Regions from separate parts of the Homo sapiens genome. Here all the other regions are linked to region 1. The links come from fine-mapping of genetic effects on gene expression. A gene starts in region 1. Each other region holds a variant in brackets. All regions are shown on one strand. Distances are between the middles of the regions.

Region 1 (5,823 bases):
GTGGTGGTGGGCGCCTGTAGTCCCAGCTACTCGGGAGGCTGAGGCAGGAGAATGGCGTGAACCCGGGAGGCGGAGCTTGCAGTGAGCCGAGATCGCGCCACTGCACTCCAGCCTGGGCCACAGAGCGAGACTCCGTCTGAACAAAAAAAAAGAATACCTGAACCTATATTGGGAAGGGCGAGCCAGGCTGAGGCAGGAAGGATGTTTAATTGTGCTTGTGTGCCTGTGGGCGTGCGCATCTGTGTATAAGTCAGAACCTTCCTAGAGGGGGAAAATGCTTAATTCTGTCAGTCAAATTGGTGAACGGGCTATTTATAGACCTTAAACTGGCATGTGCTATACATACTGAATACTTGGCTGTTCTCATTTCTTTTGAACAATTGAGATAAAGTAAAGGAGAGGCAAAAAAAATGTCATGAGAAAAAGTAAAGAGAGATTCAGATCATGACTACAATTTTTCTTATAACATTATCTTTCTTATAACTGTAGATGGCCTGGAAAACTTCCCAGAGTCAGGGAATCACATAAAATAGGATTCCAGGGTGTAGGAGGAGTTGGTGGGGGTGGGGGGGGGATGGGATTTCATTTTAGAGACTGAAGAGAGCTTGGTCACTGAAGTTCTGGGTGTAGAGGTGAAGAGGATTATCTGAATACTGCACTGATTTTATTTGATTTCAAGAGTGCTCTCCAGTGTCACTATTGCTCAGATGCCAAAATATCTCTGAGCTATTGCATAGAACATGGCGTCAGCCAGAGAAACTGGTTCAGGGGCACCAGGACACAACGAGCTCTCATAAAGGAACTCTGGAGAGATGACAAAGAAGCATATCTATGCCTGACCGTCCTGCACTCCTTTTTCTGGGAAGAAAGTAAAGCCCCCTACCAAAGATAGCAGAACAATCTCTCACTCTGAAGTGAGGGCAGGAATAGTGAGCTATTGCCTGCCATCCATCTCCAAGGCTTCTCTGGAAAGAGGATGTGCTGTCTAGAGACGAAGCTGTATTTGGGACTCCTGCCCTGCAAAGTACATTCAGGGGGTTTGAGTGGCCTGCACTGGCACTCTTGGGGCCACCCAGGTTCCCCACCTTCAGCACCTCCCAGCTAGGACACATATTTTACCCATCAGTTCCTCCTCAACTCCATATTCTACACATTCTAGTTACTCCTGATTCCCTCTGAGAGCTTCACCGGGTCCTCCGTGGCTGTTAAGAAACAGGTGGACCCCACCAGGCAACTGGAGAAACTGCAAACTCTCCACTTACCGAGAGGCACAATCTGTCCCCTCTTTTCTTCCATAACTTCCCCATCTGTGAAATGGGAATAACAGCCCTGTCACAGCTACTTCACACAGTAAAAGTGCTGCATAAGGTGGAAAACGCTAAAATAAAAAGGCAGGGCATTGCTCTTGCTATTTTTAATACCTATCCCATAGTTTCATTTAACATAAAACTGCAAAATAGCTACCAAATATACCTTAAAAGCCCATCCCCAGCCTGGGAATAATAGCTGCATACAAACTTGTTCAGGTCCCTCAGTCCCTCCTTAAACCTATTGAACTAGAACCTCCAAGTGTCGAGACCAGGACCTGTATTTTTAAGGAGTTCCCAGGCAATGCTAATCATCAGCCGGGTTTCTGACCACGATTTGCTCCATTCTATGAACACTGGGCAGAATCTTTGCCTGGTTTGGAGGAAGAGATGTATGATGTATTTCCTATGCCTCTCAAACTTGACCAGTGGAGGTGAGTTACAGCTCAGGTGACTGACAATCCTTTTCTAAGGAATAGGAAGAACAATAATGCTTTCGAAGGGTTAAGATCTCACAGGAGGACCACCAGAGGGGAGAGGAGGGGTCCGCGGGAAGGAATGGAACTCACCTACGATGATACCACAGGCACTGACCAATCCGATCTCTTTCTTCAGGGCTACTCCGCCCCCTCCGGAACCAGCCTCGGGGCTGGCGTCCGACTCGCCCCCACCTGGGTGTTTCTTTTCGGTGTTGTTTCGGTGCCTGGCTCCTTCTTCCATCCTTCTCAGTAGGATTGCAACCTCAAAAGCTGCCTCCCTTTCTAAATGCGTATTCGTGTAAATATATTGGGAGAGAGCTTTGAATTAGAACGTCCTTTTCCGAAATAGGAACCACTGCTACTCTCTAAAAAAGGCAAGCAGATAAAAGAGAACACGAAAAATATTCCTACTCCGCATTCACACTTTCTGGTCACTCGCGTTTACAAACAAGAAAAGTGTTGCTAAAAAAAAAAAAAAAAAAAAAGGCCAGGGGAGACATACATTTAAATATAAAAATAGAACTGTGCCAGCGACTCCGGCTGGAATTCTGCTGAAAGGGATGTGTCTTCAGAAACCAGGATGGTTCTGCTCTGTGCACCAGGCAGTGGCTTATTCAGAAAGTGAGCCTGGATTTCCCTTCACCTCTCCCCCTAATAAAACAGGAGACTGCCTTTACCTCCCCTTAGTTTTTTCTTTTATGATGAAGACAAAAGTAGTTTTCATTAACGGTAGGAAAAAAGAGCAATCCTCAGGTACTTTCTTCTCTTCTAGAAAAACAAACTGTGAACCTGACGGTGTTGCTCTAGATCTGGTTTCCACCTGCTTTGGGTTTCTTTTCCCTTCCCCGTCTTCTGCTTCCGCCTTTCCCAGGTGTCCTCTTCTTTCTCGCTGGTCTTCGTGCCCTTGTTTTCCTCTTTTCGATCCCCGTTCTACTGCACAGCCGGCCCCATCCCTCTGGTTTCGGGAGAGTGGCTTCTCCACACACTAACGTGCTTCTCTTTAGCGAGGGGTTTTATTCGCCCGCCGAGGCTCCGCCCCTGCCTCCTCTGCTCCCCTCCATCCTCAGTCCCGTCTCCTCCCTCCTCTGCAATTTAAGTATTAGCACAAAGCCCCCAAACAGCACTGAGAAAATGGACTAAGTTATTTCTTTTTGCAATCGTCTCTCGCTTTCTCCATCTTTCTCCTTGCAACCAAGTGGAAGTAAACTCCTTCCACGTCAACTGTTCCGGGAGAGCTCATTAGCTAGTATAATGTTACAGGTCATACAGCATCTGTGAGCTTTATAAATCAGGGAACAGTTGTGCCGATACTTTTAATGCCATCAGAAATAAACTAGCCAATGTATTAAAAAATATTTAGGACTGGATCCTGTATTTGAGAATACAGGAGAGAACGTTGAAAGGACATCATCTTCGAGTTTCCTAAAAATAGGGGGAATCGACGGGTGGGGGAGGGAAATGGAAGGAATTAACAATGGGAAAAAGGTTCTTTTAGCGTAATTGTGAGCTACGAAGAGTACAGAGGAAACAAAATCGCCAGGCGCGGTGGCTCACGCCTGTAATCCCAGCGCTTTGGGAGGCTGACAGGGGAGGATCACGTGAGCCCAGGAGTCTGAGACCAGCCTGTGCAACAGAGCGAGACCCCGTCTACTAAAAATTTTAAAATTAGCCGGGTGCAGTGGTGCAGGCCTGTAGTCTTAGCTACTCAGGAGGCTGAGGCTGGAGGATTGCTTGAGCTCAGGAGGTCAAGGCTGCAGTGAGCTATGATGACGCCACTGCACTCCAGCCTGGGAGGTAGAGCAAGACCCTGTCTCAAAAACAAAACAAAACAAAAAGCCAGAAAAACCACATGCACATACAAAAAGATAAAAAACAAAATCACCAGGTAGCCTTGTTGTTCACAGCTCTTATTTAGGACTGGCTGAAACATGAAAAAAAATGACTCAAACCCTGATCCTGCAACTTCTAATATTTTTGCATTTATAAACTATTTGAAAAGCACACATGGGGAATTATCAGTATATCGCTGATCATGAAACATACTTGTTGATGTTAGAATAACTAGCTTATTACCATATCGAAATGATGCCTCCACTTTCTTGAAGAATTTCACTCAGAAACTGCTGCCTTAAGGTGAGAGCAACAATGTCTATTTATAATTGTAAATTATTTCGAAAAAACAGCATGAAGCAATATAGTGGACAACACTATAAGTCTAAAATAAAGTTATTTTTAGCCTTATTAAATATATTATGCAAAATTATTTAATTTTAAAGTGGGCCTAAAAAATTAAGTTCCCCCAAACTGACCCCTAACTACAAAAATTTGGCCTCACTTTCTGGAAAATGTTCCAAAAGATTTTGGGTTTTAAGGAAAATAAATACTTAATTCCTTAAAATGAGGTTTGTTGAGCTATCATAGCAAAAGCTTTTTCAAATGGGGTAAAGTCCAATCAGCAGTCATCTGCCCCCTTGATCACTCAGCAAGTATTAAGAGGTTTCAAAGGTTGGGAGGAACTTCCTCTCCTCCTTTTGCTAGTTCAAGACACAGCAAATTGAAAGACTCAGCAAAAAAAAAACAACAAACAACAACAAAAAAAACCAGACAAGGCAGGGAATATATAGCACGAAACTCCATGGGAGGGAATGAGTCATGGGAAATGAAAAAATGTCGAATTTGCCTCTAGCCTTTCCTGACAACCTTAGAAAGCACTGAGGAAAAATTTGATAGATTCATTTGTATACATTCAGATTTGAAGACTTCTGCTCCGATTTCAACATCACCATATAAAACAAATAATGTTTCTGCTTCTTAAACGTGAGTTCTTTCAGTAATATTTGGTAGTTCTAATTTATATGATGCAGACTTAATGTGGGATAAAACATGAATGTGATGAATTTGAGGTCTCTTGCTAAAACCAGTGCAAACTGATAACGATATGGTAAGCTTTAGCCCTCTCAAATTATGAACTAAGAAGCTAAGGGGGTTATGGGATCAAATACGTTCTTGGAATACAGCGGTACTAGGTGCACACGTTGGAAAGGAAGAGTTGCTGAAGATTAGTATTTCTATTTCTTTAGCACTTGGAATTTATAAGTGGCTTATTACCATTGATTACTGGTGCGATGTAATATCTAGGAAAGGGGCTGGGCACGGTGGCTCATGCCTGTAATTCCAGCACTTTGGGAGGCCGAAGCAGGTGGAGTGCTTGAACTCAGGAGTTCAAGACCAGACTGGGCAATGTGGTGAAACCCCATCTCTACAAAAAATACAAAAATTAGCTGGGTGTGGTGGCTCACGCCTGTAATCCCAGCTACTCAGGAGGCTGAGGTGGGAGGATCGTGTGAGCCATGGAGGTTGAGGCTGCAATGAGCCAAGATCGCACCACTGCACTCCAGCCTGGGTGGCAAAGTGAGACCCTGTCTTTAAAAAAACCAAACCAAAACAAACAAACAAACAAAGCTAGGAAAGGAATCTCCCCACTTTCAAAGGGAGCATTATTTATATTAAGTGCCTCTCTGTAGGTTGGAATCTTTTTGTGACATAAACTCTTAAGTGTGTCAAAATTCCAGGTGACTAACATTGAACACAAGAGAGAAAGAAAAGCCTTGGTGTAATATGTTGACAAAAATCTGTAAAAAATTACAAACTAATGTTTATTAAATTTTGAGCATTTTTTTTTTTTTTGAGAAGGAGTCTCGCTCTGCTGCTCTGGCCGGACTGCAGTGGTGCGATCTCGGCTCTCGGCTCACTGCAACCTCTGGCTCCTAGGTTCAAGTGATTCTCCTGCCTCAGCCTCCTAAGTAGCTGGGATTACAGGCACCTGCCACCATGCCTGGCTAATTTTTGTGTTTTTAGTAGAGACGGGGTTTCACCCTGTTGGTTAGGCTCGTCTTGAACTCCTAACCTTGTGATCCACCCGCCTCGGCCTCCCAAAGTGCTGGGATTACTCTATTCTGCATTTGCCTTTATATTTTTATTCTATTCTCTACGTTTAAATAGTGCTTTATAGCCCACAAATGGTTTTCTGAACAATA
Region 2 (5,823 bases), 67 kb before region 1:
CATATGCCACTGAGGTTTTCTGAGGCCAGGCCAGGCCTGCTTATGGAAGCAGCTGACAGAGGTCAGCCAGGGGTTCTGTCCAGCTTGGGCCACTCCCATTTTGGAGCAGCTCATGCTGAGTCGGGAGGAGGGGTCTGTCTGCGGGGGGTGGGGGGTGCTGGTGAGGGTGATGGGAAGTGACTGGCCTGTCCGAGAGGAGACGCACAGGCTCTCAGCCAGCCCTGCCTATTGTTGCCTCAGCGTCTCCTGAACAGCCCCCTTCATCCCATAGTCCCCTCACTGGCTTGGAGCACGGCAGGGGGTGGAGGTGAAGAGGCCCCTTTCCACCCACAACCCCAACCGGGATCTTGCAACACTGGGATGGGGGCCCTGGGGGCCCAGGCATGTGGCAATCTGTGTAGAGGGGTGGGGAGGTGTGCACCGAGCAGGGGGGTTGGGGGCAGCTTTCACAAGCCACTGCCTCCGCTGACTGACCTTGGCAGACTCACCTTGGGCAGCTTCCTCCCTCTGCAGTGTCTCCCCACAGTCTGTCTTCTCCTCTGCAGCTTCCCTGTGGCCTAAGATCCTGTCTCTCAGCTCAGGAGTCTCATTCTGCTCCCCAGTTCTGCTCCAGAAAGAAAAGTGGGCCTGAGCTGTGGGCGCTGAAGCAATAGGACTGCATGCGTGTGCTGTTTGGACCTTGATTTGCTGGTTTTCAAACGTTATCGAGTCCCCGGTCCTGGTGCCTTTCCCCAGGCAGGGTTTGGCTAACTGCCCTTCCCTGGGCTCCTTTCTGTCATCTCCTTCCCCAGTGGGGACAACCTTACTGTGGTAAAGGTGCCAGGAGGACCAAGGGGCAGGGAAGCTGAATCCAGGGGCAGAGAGAACCCTGCTCTCCACCTGCCCCGGCTTCTTAGGCACCATCCTCCTTGACAGAGGGAATGAAAATAGTCATTTGCAACCCCTGCAGCCCCATTCTGGAGGGAAGGTGCATCTTTTTCTTACTTATCCTCTCCTTCCTTCTTTCATTCAGCATCTACTCCTGGCTTCCTTTCTCTCGGTCACCTTAGGGCTTTTGCATTTACCCTTCCCTCTGTTCACCCTTACACTCAAAGACATACCTGCCTCCTTCTCAAAATTTTTGAAGTGTCAACTAAAATGTCACTTCCTCAGAGATACCTTTCTCGGCCACCCCAGCTAAAATAGCCTCCCTACCTGTTGGTTTATGTGGTTTCCCCAATGGGCTATTCAAATGGAGTAAGCAGGAGAAGTTAATTAAGGTGCTTTATGAAGATGTGAACCAACAGTATCTGGGGAAAGTTCCTGGAGTGGTGAAGTCCCCTGGGCTAGCCCAGCACGGGGGGCGCCTGAGGGCCAGGAATCCTTTGGGAGGGACTGTGGAGAGCGCCGGTCAGCAGGGGGCTCCCACCACTCTCCTCCTGCCAGTCTCACCCCCACCCCATGAGAGGCTGGTTGATGTAGGGAGGCATCCACCTGGGGACTGTGTAGGGTGATGAAGGGTGGAGAGGGTTCTGGAGGGGCAAAGGAAGACATTCAGCACACTTGTTTATTGACTTTTTCTTCCTACTCCTTCTGCTGAGAACTTGTCTCATTCCTAGAAAAGATACTCAACAAATACTTGTTGAATAAGTTACGTTGGCCAAAACCAATTGAGGTCAGATTGAAAGCCTCTTTCAGGAAGTGTGCCCTCTGGCTCTGACTCACACCCCTGGAATATGATCTGATGCAGAGGATTGGGATGTGTTCAGCTGCTGCACGTCACGCTGGGATCACAGTGGGGAGACGGGGATGTGACTCCCCCAGACTGGGTGCCAGTCAGGAAGGCTCCACTAGGCACCGGCCCTGAGGACCTGACTGGGTGAGCGGGGGCCTGAGAGGAGAAGCAATTCAGAGCTGTGGGAACAAAGCCTGGGCTTCATGCTGAAGCAACCCAGGTCCCATCACCCAGAACCTTGAAAGTAAGTCAAGGGACAGTGGTCTTGAGCTGAGAGGAGGAAATCCGGAGGTTGAGTCATTTACCATGTTCTGTACAAACCCCCCTTATGCAACCTATCCCCCTGGGCTGAAAGGAAGGTGTGAGGATTCTCCCAGGTGCCCACAGAGACTGGTACCTCCCCTCCTTCTGAACTCAGGAAGCTCCAGTCGGTCCCTCCACTGAAGGTTCAGATCTCTCCCTCCAAACCAGACCTGGGGCACGGGCCTCCAGGACACAGAGGTGCCCGAGAGACACAGAGGCAAAGGCAGGAAAAGGACTGAGTCCTGGGCAAGGTAGACATGCCGCACACGGATGCCCGAGGTGTGGGAGGGCTCTACCGCTGGAGATTTGAAGAAGGGAGAGAGATCTGGGATGATCCAGACACCAGTCTCTCACCTTCTCAGAAAATTATTCCTTGATGTCTGACTCAGCCTTTCACAGCATTGGCTTAGGAGAGACTTTAAGAAGCCCGTAATCTGTCCCTGGGTCCCTGACACTGTTGGGCACTGTTCTTTATTGAATGTGATTCATGTGACACTCGTACTGAGGATCTGTGAGAAGAGTGTAGCGTGGAGTAGAGAGACAGGTACCACGTACTGAGGCAGCAAAGGGACTCAGTGAGTGTCAGGAGAAGCCTCTTACCCCTCTGGCCCTCAACTGCTTTATCTGTAAAATGTGGCTCACCCTA[C/T]CTTGCTGGTCTGAGGGCAGAGCCCACCAGATGATCTCTTGAGGTCTCTCCCAGCACATCTTGAGATCTGCGATTTTACAGAGCCAATTTTGGTTCTACCTCTAAACAATCGTGTGACTCCAGGTAAGTCCCTTCCCCTCTTTGCAGCCTGTTTTCTTACCTGCAAAATGAGTTTAGATGAGATCTCTGAGGTCCTTTCAGTTCCAGCAAAATGGAGGAATCATAATAAATATGCTTATTACATGCAAAGTTTTCTTTTTCTATGAATATAACAACACTACGGAGTGGGGACAAATATTGCAACCATTTTGCAGATGAGGAAACTGAGGCACAGAAAGACATAATGGCTCAAGGCTCACAGCTAGTAAGTAGCAGTGTAAGATTCAAACTGAGGCTCTTAATTATTGTACCATTCTGTCTCTTAGGCTGTAGTCCAATGCAAAAGAAAATGCTGTTTCGAATGATGGGTTTCCCTGGCACGGGCAGATTGTCATCCTCCTTCTCACTACCAGTGTTCTCATACACAAATCCGGTCTCCAGGTCTTTCCCAACCGATTCCTGTCCCATGCACTCAATTCTCAAGCTTTAGGGAACTGGAGCCTCAGGGATGAGGGACAAAGGATGGAAATGAATGGGTGGGAGCAGCGTGGGGAGGGTGTCCATCTGGTAGACTGAGGCTTTGGAAATGGAGAGAAGAGATGGCGGGCTGGATCAAGGGACCATAAATATGGCAGAGCCATCAGGAATTTTCCCATGGTCACCTGGGGCAGGAGCTCCCAGACCTATACCTCAAGGTGAGAGAGAGTGGGCCTGGGATCAGCAGGCCTGGGCATGAAGGACTGTGTGGTGCCGGGATCTCCCTACAAGCTGAAGATCTTTGTTAGCAGAGCATACAAAGGTGCTCCAGGTCCTGTGGGGGGCGGGGATGTGCCTTCAGCTCACAGAAGGGGGTGATGGGGGATGTCAGGGAGAGAAGAGCAGAGTGACAGATACACGGCCTGGCTGTGTGGTATATTGGGGGTGGGCTGTGGACAGCATGTCTGTGTTTCCACATGTCCACTTGGTCATGGAAACAAGAGGTGCAGACCTAGCCACATGCATCCTCTGTCCCCAGGGTCCTCCATGACACACACACACACACACACACACACACACACACACACACAGCCAACAGTCCCAACACCCAGTCACAGTGCAACTTTATTCAGCCATATAATCATTATGCTGGGTCCTGCCCTCTTTGCCACCCCGGTTGCCATTTATCCATGGTCTATGTCTCAGGGTTCTAGGCCCCCAGCAGGATGGGGGTCCGCAGAGTTAGGCCGTGCCAGGGAGCCTGGTGCCCACAATCCACCAGCCAGCCTCAGCTGCAACCCCCCACGCCCTTGATGAGGTTGGCCGCCTCAGGAATCTGGCGGAAGAGGTTGCGGAGGGTGTCTAGCTCCTGGGTGAGCTGCTCCACGCGGCTGCGGAGGCGCTCGTTCTCTGCCATGTACTCCAGCACCTTCTGCTGCGTCTCCAGAATGCGCCTCTTGGCCTTGTCTCGGCTCTTGCGCACGGCGATGTTGTTGCGCTCCCGCCTCAGCCGGTACTCAAGGCTATCTTTGTTCACTGCCTTCTTGCCCTTGTGTAAGGGGCCAGCCGGGGAGGGCGCCTTCAGGAGGGGACTGCAGGGGGGTGCGGCAGTGGCCAAAGGGGCCTGGAGGGGAAGGCACGGAGAGACGGAGAGGTGAGGGCTGGCCAGGAGGCAGAGCGGAGGCGGGGCGGGAATCTCGGCAGCCAGGGCACACTTGATGCGTCAAAGGAATACAGGACTCAGAGCCAGCTCCTGTCTCTCAGGTCAAAACTATCATCGCTCTGCTTCTGGGAGATGGTGACCCAGATGCACAGGGTCCTCTGCTTGAGACCAAAACTCCCTTTCATGTTCTCACACTTTCTTTCTTTCTTTTTTTGTAAAGATGGAGCCTTGCTATGTTGTCCAGGCTGGTCTCCAACCCCTGGCCTTAAGCGAACCTCCTGCTTTGGCCTCCCAAAGCGCTGGGATTACAGGCATGAGCCACGACACCCAGCCAATGCTCTCACACTTTCTGAGTACACTTTCCCTCAATCTGCCTTGAGTCTCCCGTTCTATGACCAGTAGACATTTCTCACAGAAGCAGGCGGCAGAGAAACAAGAGGAGGGGGCATGGTGAGCAGCAGAGAGGCTGGCGGTGGGGGCCTGAGATCAAGTAGGTCAGCTTGCCACAGGGGCTTTGGGTGGGGATTCAGGGTGGGAATGAATTCACAGAGAAGGAAAGGGAGGTCATGGTGGGGTGTGAACACAGAGGACTGTGGGTTGGGTCCATTTCACAGAGCGACACCAAGCACAGGCTCAGCAGCATGAGCCGGGGCACAGGGTCCTGTCCACACCAGCCTCTCCAGCCCCGGGCAGGAGGGAGGAGGGCTGGCCTGCTCTTACCTTGAGAACGCGCAGAGGCTGGCCGGGTGCTGCCAGAGTTGGGGGCAGGTGCATGGCTGTCTGCCCACAGTGTGCCACTTGGTACTGCAGGGGATTGTAGCTGCCTCGGCTGGCAGCTCGGCTGCCCTCTGGCCCCCGGGGCTCCTCCTTCACCGCCACAGCCCTGGGGTCGTAGCTCCCTGGGCTGCTGTAGATGCCAGGCCCCAGCGCCTTCCTGTCTGGGCCGAAGGTATGTGGAGGGTAGGCAAAGGGCCGAGGGTCAGGCGGCAAGTAGTGGGGGAAGGCAGGGGTTCCGGGGCCCTTGAGGCCTCTGGCCTCAGGCGCTGGCTTCACGGCAAAGAGATCGGAGAGAAGCTGCTCTTCCCCAGACTCGATGTAGGCGGAGAGGTCAATGGAGGCCTCATGCTCACACATGTCCCCTAGCTCCCCGGGCCCAGCTCGGCCCCCTGAGAACTCGAGTGGCTGCTGGCCACCCCGGGGCTCACACTCGTAGTAGGTCCCGTGGGACATGGCCGGCCCGCCCCCTCGGCTCCCCGCCCCCACCTGCTCTTGAGGCACCCCTTGGGGTGCTCCGGCTGCCCTCTCTCTACCTCCTCCTGACCTGGGCCTGCCCTCTCTCGATCTTCTGCCCTAGACCTGCCCTCTGCAGTCTCCTCTGTCACCCACTCCTGTGTGGCCTCTCTCCCCCCTCTGCTCTGCTTC
Region 3 (5,823 bases), 53 kb before region 1:
TTCCAGCCCAGGAGGCCCTGAAGCCAGCCAGAGCCTCCAACAACTCACCAATGAAGTCACTGAAACACTTGGGCTTGTGTTGCCAGTAAACACCCAGGAAATAGACAGGCACTCCTGTCAGCATGATGGCCAGGCCAATGCCACACACCACCGGCTCTGACCACAGGCTGAAGACCAGCAGGAAGGCCCAGAACAGCAAGTAGATGATGGGGAACAGCAGGTTGATCTGTGGAGCAGAGGCATGAGGCGTATGAACTGTGTAGGCCACGTGGCCCCCAGGACTAGGGACTGGGGCATTCTCTCTCTTCTTCACCCACAGAGACACATCCTCAAGGGCAAAGGCTGGGCTTCCCTCGGCTCTGTGGTCCCACACTCACCCCTGGTAGGGCAGGGGCTATATAAACAAATGTTGATGAACATGGTCGGTCAGACAGGAAGAGGATGGGGAGGAGTTAGGGAGGAAACGATCCTCCTTGCCCATGTCCTCGCTCTTGGGTGTGGTTAGACAAGGCCTCATCATGCATGCCATGTGCCCGTGGCAGCCAGAGAAGCCCACAGGGATGGAGAAGCTTGCTGGCACATGGGTGTGTCTGCTGAGGTCCTAGGGTGGAGGGGAGGTGTGGCAATGCACAAGGTGCAGGCAGGAGACGATTCGAGTCACTCAGGCTCCCTGGTCCTTGCCCACTTCTGTGCAGGGCCCTTATGTGGGCACAATATGGCAAATGTCAGCTCCTTATGGGCCACATGTGGGGAGTTCCTGAGAGTATCCTCTTCAGGGCTCCAGGGGCAGTCCTGATTCGGCTGCCTTTCTCTTCCTTGTCTTCCTCGCTCAGAAGGGATGTGTGTGGTGGGGACATGGGGTTATTCTACCTCCTCTTCCCTCTAGCAGATTTTCTAAGTGTGAGAGTAGAAAATGGCGGTGGAAATGCCAGTGAGGAACTGAGAGATTTGGAGAGCCTTTGATTTTTCAGCTGGAAGGATCTTCTAGAAGCATCTAGTCACTGTTTCTAGAATAGGATTGTTCAAATAGCTCTGGAGTACACTCTATTCTTCTAATTCGTAGGAGAACTCATAATGCTCTAGCATGTCCTGTTCTGAGCAATCCCTTTAATTCCTATCACAGAGTTATATCTTGTAGCAATATTAGGTTCACTGAGCACCCTATATGTGTAGGACTGTGGGAGTTTATAAAGGGAGGATCATGGGAGGTTGCAGTAGACTGGAAGACTTCAAGAAAGAGGAGGTACTTGAGGCGCATTTGGAAAATGGTTAAAATGTAGATGGGCAGATGGGAGGAGGAAGTCATTCTGGGATGGAGACATAGCACATAGTGAACCCAGCTATCTGGAGGGACAAGGAGGAAGTGTTGGGGAGATAAGAGAACCTTGAAAAGTCAGCTGGAGTTTAAGGCTTAGACTGGTAGGAAACAAAGGAATGTCATGATGAAAGTCACATTTGATCTGACTTATTCCCCAGCTGCAGTCTGCTCCGATCTCATCCCCAGTGGAGAATGGAAATAGTGGTCCCATTCACAAATGGCCCTTGCTTTCCAAAGGGTCTGCTACCATCAGAGATGATGACGTGTGGTCAGCAGCTAAGAACAGAGGTGATTTAAAAATCTGAACTGCAGCTAGAACCATAGAGGAAGGGGAGGGGACCCCAAAGGGAGTTTCTCTCACCTTGATGGGGCGGGGGATATCAGGCTTCTTCCAGCGAAGGACTATCTGTCCAGCAACCGTGACCCCATAGAAGAGGTAGTTGATGAAGCCCACATAGTTGATGAGTGTGTACATGTCGCTGGTGACCAGCATCAGCAGGGTGGAGATGCACTGGGAAAGTGGGAGGAGCTCATCAGTGATCCGAAAGATATTCAGAGACTGGTATTACAGATTAGGGGCTGTCCCCCAGCCTCCAGGCAGATGATGCCATCGTATAATGGATGTCTCGAAATGGAGACTTTAGAACCTCCCCTAGTAACCCAATATGTTACAACATCTTTATTGCTAGGAAATCCTTTCTTATTACAGGGGTGATGATCAAAATATTTAACCACTCGTATGGCACGGGCACTAGCCAATTAGAATGGATACTGGACATAAGCAGCTAGACTGGCCACACTGGTATTACCTGGCTCTGTGTCAGCCCCGGTCTCATTTGTATGCCTCTGTTGGTTATAGCTCAAGCTAAATTCATTTTTTTAAAATCCCTTAGGGAAGATTGTTAACAACAGATTAAGGCTGTATTCCTGCCCTCATCCTTTTCTCCTGGCTGAGTCATCTATTTTTCTTCCTTCCTTTTCTTTATTAATTTCAAAACTGGTTACATAGCACTTACTGTGTGCCAGGTCTCTATGTTTAGCATTTGACAAAGATTAACTCACTTAACCCTCATAACATCCCTATGAGGTTTTCTTGACAGAGTCTACTTTCCAACTTCAAAATCATCTCTGTGGCTCTCTTGGAACCATGCTCCTCCCCTCTGATAACTTGTGAAGGTCAACAAAAGGTTCTGTTCTCTTGTGAGATCCGATGGTTAAAATAATCGAGAAGATTTTAATGGTTCTTGCTACATCTGCCTTTTAGTCACACTACTGCACCAATAGCTCTAACTGGAAAAAACAAAACAAAACAAAACAAAAAAATGTGTGTGGCCCACTGGGAGTACTGTCTTCTCCAGCCACCTTCGACAACCAACCAGTCAAGGTGACCTTCATCCTGCATCTGAACATTCTGAAATTGTACAGCAATGCTGTAAAATGCTCTTGGCTCCCAAGAGCTCTGTTATTCTGATTGCTAACTGCTTCACCAGTGGACCAAAGTCATTTTTAGTGTTTTATTCAGGATCCAGAAGGAAAATAAAAATAACTCAAAAGACTCAATGGGGACAAGTCTTTGTTCCTTCCTATAGCTCTCTCAAAATGATTCTACTCTGGGGATATTTTACTCCCATCTCTTTCCTGTCCCAAGTTTCCTTTGCACAGTTTCCAGTTTATCAGTCTTCCTCTATTATTTTTCGTATTTGGTGTACTGTTAACACTAACTTCATTTCAATGATGTTTCCCAAGAGACTGGCAGGCTGCCCTGAAGCTTGATGGGGGAAGTGGGTGTTTGCAGGGACCAACCAGCCAGGAGCAGAGGCCAGTGCTGCAACCCTGTGGTAACAGGTGCGAGGAGAGCCAAGGGAGATATATTTTTTTTGAGGCTGTAGAATCCTGAGACAGTCAGTTCAGTCTGACCCAAAAGGATGGGAGAACGGAAATAAGTCAGCCTGAGAGCCTTAGGTATTTCAAGACTCAGGATCTTTCCTTGCTATATCTCTTGATATTAACAAAGATGATGGGTATCATTTGCCAGATCCTCTAAGATCCAGTGAGACCTAGCAGCAGACTGCAAGGGTAACAGGGGTGTGTGTGAAAAGCATGAACTCCCAGCTTAGACTAGGCACAAAGAGAGGGAGGTGTGTGGAGAGTTACAGCAGGAAGG[G/T]CCCTTACTGTGAAGAGCAGGGCTGGGATTGGGGTGCAGCGCTTCACGTGGATCATGGCCAACACACTGGGAAGGTGGCCCTCTCGGGCTCCAGCGAAGAACAGCCTGTCAGGGAGAAAAGCAGGTCAGCCTGGGATAACCCAGGGACCACCAAGCCCCAGCTCCTTCATCCTTGCCTACCTTCTGCCCACACAGGGGCATCCCCACTCCAACCAGGCACCCGCCTTCACATGCATACTTTCCACCCCACCAGTCACAGAACCTGTGTTCACAAATGCAGGTGCAAGCAAACCAGAGGCAGCCAGTGGAAAAGTGGATGAACCCTGGGTATGTTAGACCCTGAATGTGGTATGGGTGGCTCAGGGTTACTGATAATTGTACTGTCACTCAGTGGGGTGTTCCCAATGCCTGGAAGGCTGCAGGAGCAGCCTCTGTCTGTTGCCTAAAATCTTCATCTCTTTAAAAGCATTCCTCACATCCTCAAAGGATGCAGATTCCCTAATACACTGGGACTGAACTGCATATGGAAAGCTTTAAAAACACTCTATTTTTTTTTTTTTTTTTTTTTTTGAGATGGAGTCTGACTCTGTCGCCCAGGCTGGAGTGCAGTGCTGCAATCTCGGCTCACTGCAACCTCCGCCTCCCAGGTTTAAGCAATTCTCTGCCTCAGCCTCCCGAGAAGGTGGGATTACAGGTGTGTGCCACCATGCCCAGCTAATTTTTGTATTTTCAGTAGAGACGGGGTTTCACCATCTTGGCCAGGCTGGTCTTGAACTGCTGACCTCGTGATCCACTTGCCTCGGCCTCCCAAAGTGCTGGGACTACAGGCGTGAGCCACCGCGCCTGGCCTAAAAACACTCTTGTCCTAGTCAGAGAGTAGTTAGTTGTCTTTGTGGGAGTAGGGAATTGGTGGTGGAAATGTTCTCTATCTTGTTTTGGGTAGTGGTTGAATTTTGACAACTGTCAAAATTCATCAAATGGAAGCCAGGCACAGTGGCACACACCTATATTTCTAGCTACTTGGGAGGCTGAAGCAGGAAGATTGCTTGAGCCCAGAAGTTCAAAGCCAGCCTAGGCAACATAGTGAGACTCTGCCTCTAAAAAACAACAATAAAAAACAAAAATGAACAAACACAAACAAAAAAACCCCCACAAAACTCATCAAAATGAACATTTATGATCTGCTTTTTTTTTTTTTTTGAGACGGAGTTTCACTCTTGTTGCCCAGGCTGGAGTGCAATAGCACGATCTTGGTTCACCGCAACCTCCGCCTCCCAGGTTCAAGCGATTCTTCTGCCTCAGCCTCCCGAGTAGCTGGGATTACAGGCATGCGCCACCACACCCAGCTAATTTTTGTATTTTTGGTGGAGACGGGGTTTCTCCATGTTGGTCAGGCTGGTCTCGAACTCCCGACCTCAGGTGATCTGCCCGCCTCGGCCTCCCAAAGTACTGGGATTACAGGCATGAGCCACTATGCCCAGCCTATGATCTGCTTTTTAAAAAAAAAATTGAGGCAGGGTCTTGCCATGTTGCCCAGGCTGGTCTCGAACTGGGCTCTAATGATCCTCCCACCTCGGGCTCCCAAAGCGTTGGGATGACAGGCATGAGCCACCACGCCCAGCCTGCATATTTTATTGTATGTAAATTGTACTTAAAAATTTATATCCTGTCTTGTGGGATTGAGTTTAAAAAAATTATATCCTGTCTGGGCACGGTGGGTAACACCTGCAATCCCAGCACTTTGGCAGGCTGAGGCGGGAGAATCATTTGAGCCCGGAAGTTTGAGGCCAGTCTGGGCAAAATAGTGGACCCTTGTCTCTACAAAAAATAAAAATAAAATTAGCCAGGTGTGGTGGCATGTGCCTGTTGTTCTAATTACTCGGGAGGCTGAGGTGACAGGATCACATGAGCCTGGGAGGCTGAGGCTGCAGTGAGCTGTGATTGTGCCATTGCACTCCACCCTAGGCAACAGAGCAAGAACCTGTCTCAAAAAAAAAAAAAAAAAAAAAGAGAAAGAAAAAATTGGAAATATCGTAAGTGCCTAAAAGTAAGAGGTCGATAAAATGAATTTGGCATAAGATGAAATGTTATGGGCTAGGCACAGTGGCTCATGCCTGTAATCCCAGCTCTTTGGGAGGCTGAGGTGGGTGAATCACCTGAGGTCAGGAGTTTGAGACCAGCCTGGCCAACATGGGGAAACCTCGTCTCTACTAAAAATACAAAAATTAGCCAGATGTGGTGGCACGTGCCTATAATCCCAGCTACTTGGAAGGTTGAGGCAGAATTGCCTGAACCCGGAAGGTGGAGGTTGCAGTGAGCAGAGATCATGCCCTTGCACTCC
Region 4 (5,823 bases), 21 kb before region 1:
CTCTGTGACAGCATTCTGCACCAGGCAGTTGGAGGCTTTCTGCAGAGGAATTGCAAAGCAACTCAGGAGTTTGAAGCAACACATGAAGTCCTTTCCTTTCCAAATAGCTCAAGGAAGAAGAGCTATCTGAAGCCCTGGAAAAAGCTAGCCTCTTAGGAATCTCAGTAGAAAGATAGAAAACAAGATTAGAAGCATTTTTTCCTTGAGAGATGCATACAGGATATTTCTTTCTCCTGAGGGTGAGGAAGGAGAAGGAACTTCTTTAGGTCAAGACATTCAGGGAGAAGTGGGGAACTTGAATAAAAAGAATTGATTCCACTTCAGGTGCTGGACATGACTCCAACCCCAAATGAGAGGAAGGAGGCCAGGAGGGGACTGAATGAAAGGTGATCCAGTCTCCAAGAGAATGGGGAGCAAACGGATCCCAAAGGAAAATGCAGAGTTGCACAGATGCACAGATGGAAGCCTGGGAAAGGGTGTCCCCTGGACCCAGTGCTTCCTCTGGATCATTGTGGATGCTTTGTTTACAACTAGAGACCCAGGTAACAGCCAAAAGATGTGGCTACAGGATAAAACGGCAAGCTGTAGGCCGGGTGGGGGTGGCTCACAGCTGTAATCCCAGCACTTTGGGAGGCCAAGGCGGGTGGATCACGAGGTCAGGAGATCGAGACCATTCTGGCTAACAAGGTGAAACGCTGTCTGTACTAAAAACACAAAAAATTAGCCGGACGTGGTGGCGGGCGCCTATAGTCCCAGCTACTCGGGAGGCTGAGGCAGGAGAATGGCGTGAACCCGGGAGGCAGAGCTTGCAGTGAGCCGAGATCGCGCCACTGCACTCCAGCCTGGGTGACGGAGGGAGACTCCGTCTTAAAAAAAAAAAAAAAAAAGGGCACGCTGTAGGAATAACCTGTCAGTACATAGGTCCATGCAGCCAGAGTTGTACAGTAATAGATGCACTTTATTTAGAACTATCCACTAGGACTGCAGCTACTGGCCAGCGGCTGATGATAAGGGCGGCTATCGCTGCTGGCTCTATATCTTACTTGGATCTTTTATATGGGGAATATAGTCATTTACTCATGAAATAATACAAAAGGAGAAAAACACACAAGCAGATCACAAAAGGTATCAAAACCAAGTTCTAACACTTCCCAGTCCCCTCCTAACTCCCTCCACTCCCACTAATATACTTGTTCTGGAGAAGAGAGAAAGGCTTTTTATTTAATTAAAATGTAAAATACTTTCTCTCTCTCTCTCTCTTTTTTTTCTTTTCTTTTTTTACTGCTGGGTGGCTAGGGATATTCTGCTGACTCAGCAGTGAGTAATCAGCTTTGACCTAAATAATAGAATAACTCGAAGTGGCAGCTGCAGTTGCATAAGTGTGATCCAAGTCTGCAGTTCCTTCCCTCTCCCTCTCCTCTCCCCGACCCGCTCAGGATCCGGCAGGCAAGCCAGTTTCAGCAGGTTCTTTCCACCTCTCCACCCCCACCACCTGGCTCCTCCCAACTTCATTTCTCATCAGTTCTCCTCCAAAACAGCCCCACCATGGAACCAGACTTGGCCTCATCTCCTCCCTCCCCCAGCAAACCCTCGCCACGGGCTTTACCACACAGGCTCTCCCTGCTGGGCCCTGTGCCCTGTCCTCCAGTGCCCTCCATTATACACCAATGACCTCTCCACAGAGGGTGGCCTTTCCTCAAAACCTCTCGCTTCACAGTCATCAGCATGTCGCCACAGGACAGCAGGAAGCAGAGTTCCCCATGTGCATATGTTTACGCCACACCGGAACTCTCTACTGCGTCTCTCAAAAGAGACACAGGCTGGGCTTATTTTATGTAGCTGGCTTGCCTGGCCCCTGCTAAGAGGATGAGGAGGGCTGGATGATGGTGGGGGTAGGTGGGTGGGTGGGAGGGGTGCTGGAATAAAAAGTACCAGCATTTAATGAAAGATAGCGTCTACCAGTCGGGCGCAGTGGCCTCACTTTGGGAGGCTGAGGCGGGTGGATCACTTGAGGTCAGGAGTTTGAGACCAGTCTGACCAACTTGGGGAAACCCCATCTCTACTAAAAATACAAAATTAGCTGGGCATGGTGGCTTATGCCTGTAATCCCAGCAACCTGGAAGGCTGAGGCAGGAGAATCGCTTGAACCCGGGAGGCGGAGGTTGCAGTGAGCCAAGATGGCGCCACTACACTCCAGCCTGGGTGACAGAGTGAGACTCCATCTAAAAAAAAAAAAAAAAAAAGCATCTACCAAGCCTTCCTGACAGCTTGGTTCTTGTTTTACTGAATACCGTATGAGAGGATTGGATGCTTATCTGGTATGGCCTGCCATAAAATTCAAAAAAAGAAGAGAGGATTTGAGGGGCCTATAGAAGTGGATTAAAAAAAAAAAGTATTCAACAAACCGGAAAACAGAACCTCTGTACACAGACTCAAAGCAGCTGGGAGTGTCAGGTATAAGGAAAGGGAGAGAGGAAGTTTGTTATAGCTAATGCATGTACGTGTGCACCCTGCCGGGCAGAGGGATGGCAGCTCCACATGGCCTTCACAGCTAGGAGGAAAGGGACACTGCAGCGGGACAGGTGTGGAGCTGGTTTCCATTTCCCCTAAAGGAAATAAGGAAGACTACGCTTGGGAATAAGAAGGATTTAAGATTTTTCTGCTTATGAAGGTAGACAAATATTTGAACCCATATTTCAAGGACATTGAAAATTCCTGTCTTTAGAGGACAAGATTGGCTACTGTTAAGTTGGAGATAATTTCCTTGCAGTTCTGCTGAGAAGGCAGAGGCCAAACTTAGATAAGCTTTATTGAATCTTTGACTACAGGAATAGAGGAGGGGGGTCTTGTCATTTTTGTCATCAGCCAGTTTCTAAATTTCTCCTTGGCTTGGTCCTTGCAGTGTCTAGGTGAGGGGAAGGCTGTGGAGAGGACTGTGCAACATGTCATTCTGGAGCAGGGCTACAGGCAGGTGGCGTTCTTATCTCCTAGGAGAGTTTGGACCTTTCTGGTCCGAGGGGACGCCAAAAAGGCTACACTACTTTGGAGGGTCTTTGTGCAAGAGGTCAAACCCTTGGCAGATTTGGGGAATGCAAAGAAAGCCATGGGGTCTGGCTGCCTGGGAACTTCTTCAACCTGTGGCCTGGCTCCTCTCCTAGGGTGCAAACTGAACAGCCTCGGGGGTTCTTGATTTCTAGTAGAAGGGTAAGGGTGGCCTCTTGTCTGAGACACTTTAGCAGCATCAGCAGGAAAAAGGAAGCTGTCTGTGTGCAAAGAAACACCAAAACAGCAGT[A/G]GCTAGCACTTCTGTGGCCTTGCCTCCCACCCTCCCATTAGCTGATCTGATGGCAGAAACAGCACTCTTCCTGCATTCCCACGCCCTCGCTCTTCCCCGCTCCCCATCTCAACTCTGGATCCAGCTAGGATGCAAGGATAAAGTGGCCCCAGCATCTTGCCCACCCCCAGTGACTGATATGACTGGGGTGCTGGGTGTCTAACACTGTGCTGAGGGTGTCCCCTTCCTTCTCTCTTGCAGTCCTTGTGACCACGACCTCTTGAGGCAGCTAGGATTACACTCCCCATCTCACAGTAGGGTGGACGAGTGATTTTGCCCAGCACTCACCACTGCAGTTAGAAATGGTGGACTGGAGATGCAGGCGCAGGCAGCCTGGTTTTGGAGCCTGCATTCCTCTGCCTCCAGATCTGTGAGCAGGCCTGATCAAACACAAGGAATACACCCCCAAACAAATGTCTTGGCCCCATATTGCAAATGGCCTGGGTGGTGGAGGTCTGTCCCAGGGTTGACCAGCACTGCCAAAGAGGGCTCACTTGCCAAGGAGACCGCCTCTTGGGTCCCAGCTGCCTGCCCTGTAAGAGGCTACTGAGGTGGGTGAGTGATCTCTTCCTCCCCCATCCCGTAACAGGACAGAAGGAAAAGTGTCAGGACCTGGGAAAGCATATGGCCAGGATGATCACTGCCCTCAGCTAAGTGTATGTGTGTTAGAAGCTATGGGAAGGCAGGGACCCAGTGAACCCTAGAGGTGGAGCCCCTGAAACATATCTAAGTATTTACTTTAGAAATTAGTTTTTGATTAAAGATGTAAAATACCCCAATCCATTGAGATGACTAATATCAGAGATAAAGCTTTGAGACTTCCTAGAAATACGGCTCTGCAGAACTTCTCTAGGAAGCCTCTCTAACCTATTCCAGCCCACAGAGATCTTTTCCCCTTCTCTGAATTTTATTGTTATTGTTGTTTTTAATTTCTTTTTTTTTTTTAGAGACAGGATCTCACTATGTTGCCCAGGCTGGAGTGCAGTGGCTATTCATAGGTGTAATCATAGCTCACTGTGGCCCAGAACTCCCAGGGTCAATCGACCCTCCTACCTCAGCCTCCCAGGTAGCTGGAACTACAGGTGTACACCACCATGCCTAGCTCCCTTCTCTGAATTTTTACTGCAATTGAATCCTAACCACAGTATCTGTCTATATGGCTTTTCTCCTAGTTAGAAAACTCATCAAGGGCAGGGATCATGGACAAACCCTTCTCCAAGAGAGTTAAAAGAGTGTGACTTGACAAGTTGAGGTAGAAGTAGATGTGGACCTACTGCCAAGAAGCCAGAGTAATCTTCCTAGGAGCAGCTGGGAGTAGCCAGCACAGTGCAGTGCACTGGACAGACAAGAAATCAGGAGCCCTTGCACTCCACGTGGCCTGCCTCCCTGGGCAAGTCATTTGCCTGGCTCTCTGTTTCCTTATCTGTTCTGGGAAAATGTTAACACTGGCCCAGCTTACCTCATGGACTTGTCATTAGGCCCAAATCAGATAATATAGGTGAAAGTGCTTTGCGTAATGTCAAGAACCCTGCCAGTGAAAATCATAGTGCCTCCAAGGAGCTACTTAAGTTTCTTTCTTTTTTTTTTTTTAACACCAGACAATTGTATGCAGAATCCATTCATAAAAAACACACTTGTAGGAAATTGAAAGAAAAGTAATGGGGAAAAGAAAAGGAGGCAGGGTGAGGTGGGTCAGGCCTGTAATCCCAGCACTTTGGGAGGCCAAGGCGGGCGGATCACTTGAGGTCAGGAGTTCAAAACCAGCCTGGCCAACAGGGTGAAACCCCATCTCTACAAAAAATACAAAAATTAGCCGGGCATGGTGGCTCACGCCTGCAATCCCAGCAACTCGGGAGTCTGAGGTGGGAGAATCACTTGAATCTGGGAGATGGAGGTTGCAGTGAGTGGAGATCACGCCACTGCACTCCAGCCTGGGTGACAGAGTGAGACCCTGCCTCAAAAAAAAAAAAATGGAGAGAAGTTAGGAGAGTCAGAGACATGTAGACCTCCAGGGAGGATAAAAGAGGCTGTCCCTCAGACTGGGTGCAGTGGCTCACACCTGTAACCACAACACTTTGGGAGGCCGAGGCAGGAGGATCACTTGAGCCCAGGAGTTCAAGGCTGCAGTGAGCTATGATCATGCGGCTGCGCTCCAGCCTGAGTGACAGAGTGAAGACTCTGTTTCTAAAAATAATAATAATAAATATAATAAAAGAGGCTGTCTTGCTACCAAGACCCAGATGACACTTACATAAGCAGATGGCAGCCAGGAGCCGAAGGCCAGACTCTGGGGGGAAGCAGGTGGGGAAGAGCGGCTGCAGCACGTAGTTGGAGAAGGTGAGGGCGATGACAGCCTGGTTGGTGGGGTAGATCACCAGCACAGCAATCCACAGCCTCAGGAACCTGAAGGAGGAAAGGGACATCCGCCGAAAGGCATGGCAGGGACGCAGAGCCATCAGGGGAGAGCCCGGGCAAGTCATGCATCTCTTTT
Region 5 (5,823 bases), 28 kb before region 1:
GATGTTTTCAGGTGCTCCCTTGCTTTGGATACAGGACTCTGGCTTCTCATTGAGCTGGGCCAGCAGGGGGTCATTTTGTGCCTCCCTCAGGGAGCCAATGAACATTCCCACATGGATCCCTGAACCAATCTCATTTCTTCTACTAAGCCAGCTGCCACTCGATGAGCCACACTATTCTGGTCTGACAGGGTAAAGGTTGGGATAGGGCCACCTGGATACGGGGCTGGATTGGTTGTTATAAGGACAGTGCTAAGAAGAATGAACCAGTTGGGACTCTCCTTGTAGTCAACTCTTGGCCCTAGAGGTAAATATTTGAAGCCTGCGCCCTACCACCCAAGGCTTGTGTCCAGCCTCATGGGTGATCAGAAGGCAGGAATGACCTTAGAGACCCAGAACCTCATTTTATTTTTCTTTTACAGATGGGAGTCTCATTCTGTCGCCCAGGCTGAAGTGCAGTGGCATGATCATAGCTCACTGCAGCTTCCCAGTCCTGGGCTTGAGCGATCTGCCTGACTCGGCTTCCCAAAGTGCTAGGATTACAGTTGTGAGCCACCATGGCGGCCCCAGAACCTCATTTTATATGTGAGTGAATTTAGACCCCAGCTAATTCGCAGCAAAGACCAGACTGGGACAGCCCAATTCCCAGTTGCTTGTTCTGCCTCTGCCCCGCCTTCCTTCATTATACACAGATCACTCTGCTTTCCCTTGGCCGCTCCCACATCATCTCTCCTCCTGCTTGGGTCAGTGGTACCCATGGTCACTACTGCCAGTGCCACTTGGGACTCTGGGTCTGTCACCAAGACACTGGTTAGCCCCAGCCTGGACTGCTTTCTGTGCAGCAGGAAGGAAGATGCCAATATGGCAAAAGGGGAAGACTTTCACAGTTATGCCTCAGAAACCAAGAAAGGTGCATCCATTGCTCCCAGGGCTTTAGAAAGTCATTTCCCACAGGGATCTCCACCTTGGGTCCCCTCCCACCAGCCCCCTTAATCAATGTCACAGTCACATGTTCCCTCCAAACTCCCGGAACTCCATTTGGATTTCTCGGTCTCGCTGGCTTGCACCTTTCTCAGGAGTGGACTGGACTGGCTTGGAAAGGCTTGGTTTTCCTTTAACATTTCCAGAACCAGGCCACTCCTCCTTGTCTGTTCAGATAAGTGAAAACAGGCAGTAGAAAGGGGGAAAAATGTCCAGACTTGCCAAAGTCCATAAAGACAGATGGTGAAGAAGAGAGGGAAAGAGCACAAGAAACCACAGGGCGGGAGAGAGCAAGGGGAGGACAATGCAGATGAGTGGGAGAGAAAAAGGGCTTGAGAGGAGCAGAACAGAGAGAGGCCAGGACTGAAAACAGCAAGATGGAATGTACTAAGCAGACGGTTGCTGAAAAAGGAAGCAGTGACGCCACTTTGTAGAAATCAGAACGCCCTGTTCCTCTCCAAACCTGCAAAACAGGCACCTTTCTGGATGGAGCTCCCCAGCCCTCTGAAACGCCATAAATTTCACCTGGGTCATGGCCTGCCAGAAGGGTTGGCTTCTCAGCCTCACCTTTTGCTGGGGCGTTCACTTCTCTGCCTTCTGCCACGCTCTGGCCAGCTCCCACAGACTCCCTCCCCTCCAGCTGGAGCAAAAGGGGTGAGGCATGTCCCTCCCAGCAGCCCTCTGGGTCTGGGTGCCCAGGCTGGAGGTTGGAGCCGCTGGGCAGGGAAGCCGGGCCTGTGGGGGCGTGGGTGTGGCTACGCTCGGCTCTGTGATTGGCTGCACCGAGTTCCTTGGCCGCCTCCCCCGCTTGTGGAAGGAACTGAGCACGTGTTTCTAATTGTGGAAAAGCCGCTTCGGCTTGGCCTGTCCAACCGCAGGCGTTTCCAGATCTAGGAGGTAAGCAGTGCCGGCTGCCAAAAGGCGCTGATAGGCAAAGAAAACACGGAGGCCTGTTTGACCTCTAACGCACACAACCCAAGGCTCTGATAAGGTTCCAGTTCTGCCCACGCAGGCCACACGGAACAGTCTTTCCTCGTCAAAGACCCAGAGAGGCCTGGAGGTGTGGGGGAGTGGGCAGACACGGATCCAGCTTCACAGAACCCTCCTAGAATCCTTCTCTATTCCCCGCCCACCCCCACCTCAAGACATTTTTTAGAGCGGGTGAGGGGCCCACATTATAAAGTCCTTCCGCACCTGGATTATTGTACATGTAACATAACTTGTCTGATAAAGTTATACATATAACTTGACTGGTGAAAGAGAAAAACGTTAAAAAAAAAAAACCCACAAAAAGCCACACAACAGACAAAAAAAAAAAAAAAAAAAAATCAAAGCAGCCCTTCCTCATAAACTGCGCTTTGATCCCAGCTTCTATAAAGTGCACAGTGGGGAGTGTGGTTTTGAAACAGATCTTGCCTATCGCACGATAGTAACATTTCCCCTTCTCCAGCCCTTTTCATCTCGAAGCACTTACAACGTTTTAGAAATCTCGGAACCCCCTCCAAAGGAGAGGAGGTGCTCTGAGCCTTCCGGAAGGGCCTCTCTCTTCCAAGGACACACCAGCAGAGGAGGAGGGTGCAGAGAAGCTGTGAGGGCTGTGAGTGCTCCTGGAGGCACACAGCTTTTACCAAACACTTCCAGCTAAGCTCCTGCCCATACTGCCCCATCCCCTCCCCTCCTCC[C/T]TTCCTGGCTCTCTCTTCCCCTTCCTTCTTATCCTGTTAGCTCCTGCGCCAGCTGCTGGAGCTGGGGTTTCTGCTGAATCACCACCCAGTATTTAGCTCAGCCAAGAGGCAGGAATACCCAGCTCAGCATTTTCCAAGAGCTGAGTAGTTCTCTCTTCAGCATGAGCTAAACATGGCTCCTCAGCTGGCCTGGATCGGGGAGAAGCGAAAAACTGGACACCAAGAAATCCAGGGTGGCCTGCCATGCCACCCTGGGGAACCCTATTTTAATCCTACTCATTACTTTTTCAGCCTGGGCCTGAAAAATTGCTATCTCACACACCAATTCTCAGGGCTGATGTCCCCCGAGACATGGAGCAAGGTGGATGAGAATGGGTTCTGTTGAGTCTGCACTGAGCCCAGGAGGGCTAGCCTGACCCTCCATCATATTTCAGTCTTGGAAGACAGGGTGTGGATCCTGTGAGGTTTAGTTGGTTCTTGGACCAGAAGGCTTGTAGGCTCTGTTGGTGTTCACTAAATTCTATAAACCTGGACCCAGGCTGCAAAATTCCCCCAAAACGGTTCAGTTATAACCCAATTCCAAGGGTAGCTTGTACTTAAACTTGCTGAACTCTTTTTTCTTTTCTTTTCTTTTTTTTTTTTGAGATGGAGTTTCGCTCTTGTTGCCCAGGCTGGAGTGCAATGGCACGATCTCGGCTCACCGCAACCTCTGCCTCCCGGGTTCAAGCGATTCTCCTGCCTCAGCCTCCCGAGTAGCTGGGATTACAGGCATATGTCACCACGCCCGGCTAATTTTGTATTTTTAGTAGAGACAGGGTTTCTCCACATTGGCCAGGCTGGTCTTGAACTCCCGACCTCAGGTGATCCGCCCTCCTCGGCCTCCCAAAGTGCTGGGATTACAGGAATGAGCCACTGCGCCCGGATATTTTTCTCTTTTTAATAAGGAACACTTTGTGAATTTGCATGTCATCTGTACATGGGGCCATGCTAATCTTCTCTGTACTGCTCCAATTTTAGTATATGTGCCGCTAAAGTGAGCACAACTTGCTGAACTCTTATAACAGAGATGCCCTTTTTTCTTTCCCCCAAAGCTCCAAGTACCACTGGGCCTCACTCCCATAAGCCTTCTGATTTTATGTTCTTAGGTATGTGATATAAATTTGGTGTGTCACATTAACCCTTAAAAGTTTACCAGACACAATTAATGGGTGACTTTATTTAAACCATGGGCCCTGGCTCCTCTGAGAAAAACAAAGTGATCCTTGACAGTCAGCAACAAAAGGCCAGAGAATTTAAGTTTCTAGGCTGGTACAAGAAAGTAGGCAAATCTCTACCACACCTGGTGGAAGCTGAACTCCAAAACAGTTTCCTGTTTCAGGAAACCTCAATCTCATTCACTGTTCTTCCAATCAGAAGTAGACATATTCCCAGAACAAGCCCCTCATTCCTCCATTTCCAGGGTGTGGGCACACACACTCTCTGAACAGCAGAACTTCTGTCTGAGAGTAGAAGCTGAAGAGCAGAAGAGACACTATGGGAATCAGGAAAGAGGAGGTGATCTGGGCCAGCAGTTGAAGCACATTGAAACGAAGAAGAAGGCTGACTTCTCAGGTAACTTACTTACTCTGCCATTGTAGACATAAGAGTCCAAAAGCACAGGGGATGCTTTCTCAAGTCCCAGCAAGTCTTAAGTGTTGAAGAGTGAGTAGAAAGGGTGACAAGGACAGAGGGGTCAACTTGACCAGTCTGAACCACACCAATTCAGATGATACAACAATACGTACAGACAATACGACCCAGTGTTGTCCTTGATTTACTTCACCTGTATCCCCAACAAGACCATGCAGTCCTTGACTCCTTCAACCTTAATCACCAAGGCCTACCAATTCTACCTCCTAAATGCCAAATGCATCTACTTTTCTCTACTCCCACTGCCCCAAGATGCACATGATAGTCATCTGCAATCTGAATCCTTACAACTGAATTGTAATCATCTTTTCTTGCCTCTGATCTTATTCCCCTCACCAATCCATCCTTTAGCTTTGCAGCATGACTCTCCTAAAATACAGATATGATCATGTCGGTCTTCTGTCTGAAACCCTTCAAACCTCATTCCTCCTAAGGGAAAGCCCAATCTCTTTATGGCCCATGAGGCTTTTCATGATGGGGTCCTTGCTTCTATTATATATTTCTTGCCTCCTAGTCTATGGTGTGGCTATACTGAACAACCTGTAGTTCCCACAAACAACTGTGATTTTTCCTGTCCTCAGACCTTGACACATGTTAATTCCTTCTGCTAGAACATTCTCCCCACCCCATTCTACTCCACCCTCCCTCCGTGCTGAATATTGCCTGACTATGTCCAACTGGTCTTTCAGTCTCAATTTACATGTCACTTTCTCCAAGAGCTTCTTCAACCCCAGTCCCATCCTCACTTTTCTTGCAGGAGCTGCCTGGATGCTGGCCTCCTGGGGAACTGGAACTCCAGTTTGAACTGAAATTCCCTGTATACTTGTCAGGAACATCCACTGGACTGTGGGTTCCTTGGTACAAAAACTAAGTATCCCCATGCCTGCCACAGTGCCTGGAGCAGAACAGACACTCAAATATTTAATAACGTATGACTGATTGTGTATTACCCGCGGCATCAATAGAGGACACACAGGTGGGTGTAGTATAATATGTGTTAAGAAAGAAGGCTAAATCTGCTGCTGCTGCTTCACATGAGAATGAGAGTCTTTCGGTTTATTGTTGTCTCCCCCGTGCCAAGAACAGTAACTAGCCCATCATGGGCACTGATAAGTGTTTGTTGAGTGAATAAAGTGTTGCATTTATATAACATTTCCCAAGAGTCCCAATCCCTTTCTAAGTTATACTGCTCTAGAGCAGGCAAAATTTTGAGCAGGATCCTGGGAGCACCACCCTGGGGAAGGTTCTAACCAGAGACCTGCTCAGCACCCCTCGGGGCTCTAGGGAGGACATGGAAGGCAGACATGGAGTCTAGCTCTGTCGCCCAGGCTGGAGTGCAGTGGCGCAATCTCGGCTCACTGCAACCTCCGCCTCCTGGGTTCAAGTGATTCTCCTACCTCAGCCTCCTGAGCAGCTGGGACTACAGGCCCCCGCCACCACGCCCAGCTAATTTTTGTATTTTTAGTAGCGACGG

Evidence for each region. PIP is the estimated chance that this variant, and not a neighbour inherited with it, causes the effect. A credible set is the group of variants that fine-mapping cannot tell apart.
Region 2: its variant is the best candidate, but not a certain one, in a credible set for the expression of SLC7A8 in whole blood (INTERVAL, PIP 0.88).
Region 3: its variant is the best candidate, but not a certain one, in a credible set for the expression of SLC7A8 in lung (TOPMed, PIP 0.62).
Region 4: its variant is the best candidate, but not a certain one, in a credible set for the expression of SLC7A8 in T cells (TOPMed, PIP 0.76).
Region 5: its variant is the best candidate, but not a certain one, in a credible set for the expression of SLC7A8 in monocytes after interferon gamma (Fairfax 2014, PIP 0.88).

Annotation. Positions count from the first base shown.
Region 1 is chr14:23,180,888-23,186,710 of GRCh38, forward strand. It overlaps SLC7A8 (solute carrier family 7 member 8), which reads right to left and starts at 2,773. Exons shown (of 11, transcript NM_012244.4): 1 at 1,877-2,773. The coding sequence starts at 2,027. It also overlaps a transcript of RNF212B not described here.
Region 2 is chr14:23,113,461-23,119,283 of GRCh38, forward strand. It overlaps CEBPE (CCAAT enhancer binding protein epsilon), which reads right to left and starts at 5,795. Exons shown (of 2, transcript NM_001805.4): 1 at 5,122-5,795; 2 at 3,846-4,362. The coding sequence starts at 5,631. The coding sequence ends at 4,027. RefSeq lists enhancers at 422-1,140, 1,306-2,505. The variant C/T (reference allele first, on the strand shown) is at 2,664.
Region 3 is chr14:23,127,971-23,133,793 of GRCh38, forward strand. It overlaps SLC7A8 (solute carrier family 7 member 8), which reads right to left. Exons shown (of 11, transcript NM_012244.4): 8 at 3,491-3,587; 9 at 1,680-1,829; 10 at 49-226. Among named protein-coding and RNA genes, the nearest start is that of CEBPE, 12 kb to the left of the region's middle. The variant G/T (reference allele first, on the strand shown) is at 3,483.
Region 4 is chr14:23,159,702-23,165,524 of GRCh38, forward strand. SLC7A8 (solute carrier family 7 member 8) reads right to left here. Exons shown (of 11, transcript NM_012244.4): 3 at 5,584-5,735. Among named protein-coding and RNA genes, the nearest start is that of SLC7A8, 21 kb to the right of the region's middle. The variant A/G (reference allele first, on the strand shown) is at 3,294.
Region 5 is chr14:23,152,714-23,158,536 of GRCh38, forward strand. The region is part of intron 3 of SLC7A8 (solute carrier family 7 member 8); the gene reads right to left. It also overlaps the pseudogene RNU6-1138P. Among named protein-coding and RNA genes, the nearest start is that of SLC7A8, 28 kb to the right of the region's middle. The variant C/T (reference allele first, on the strand shown) is at 2,661.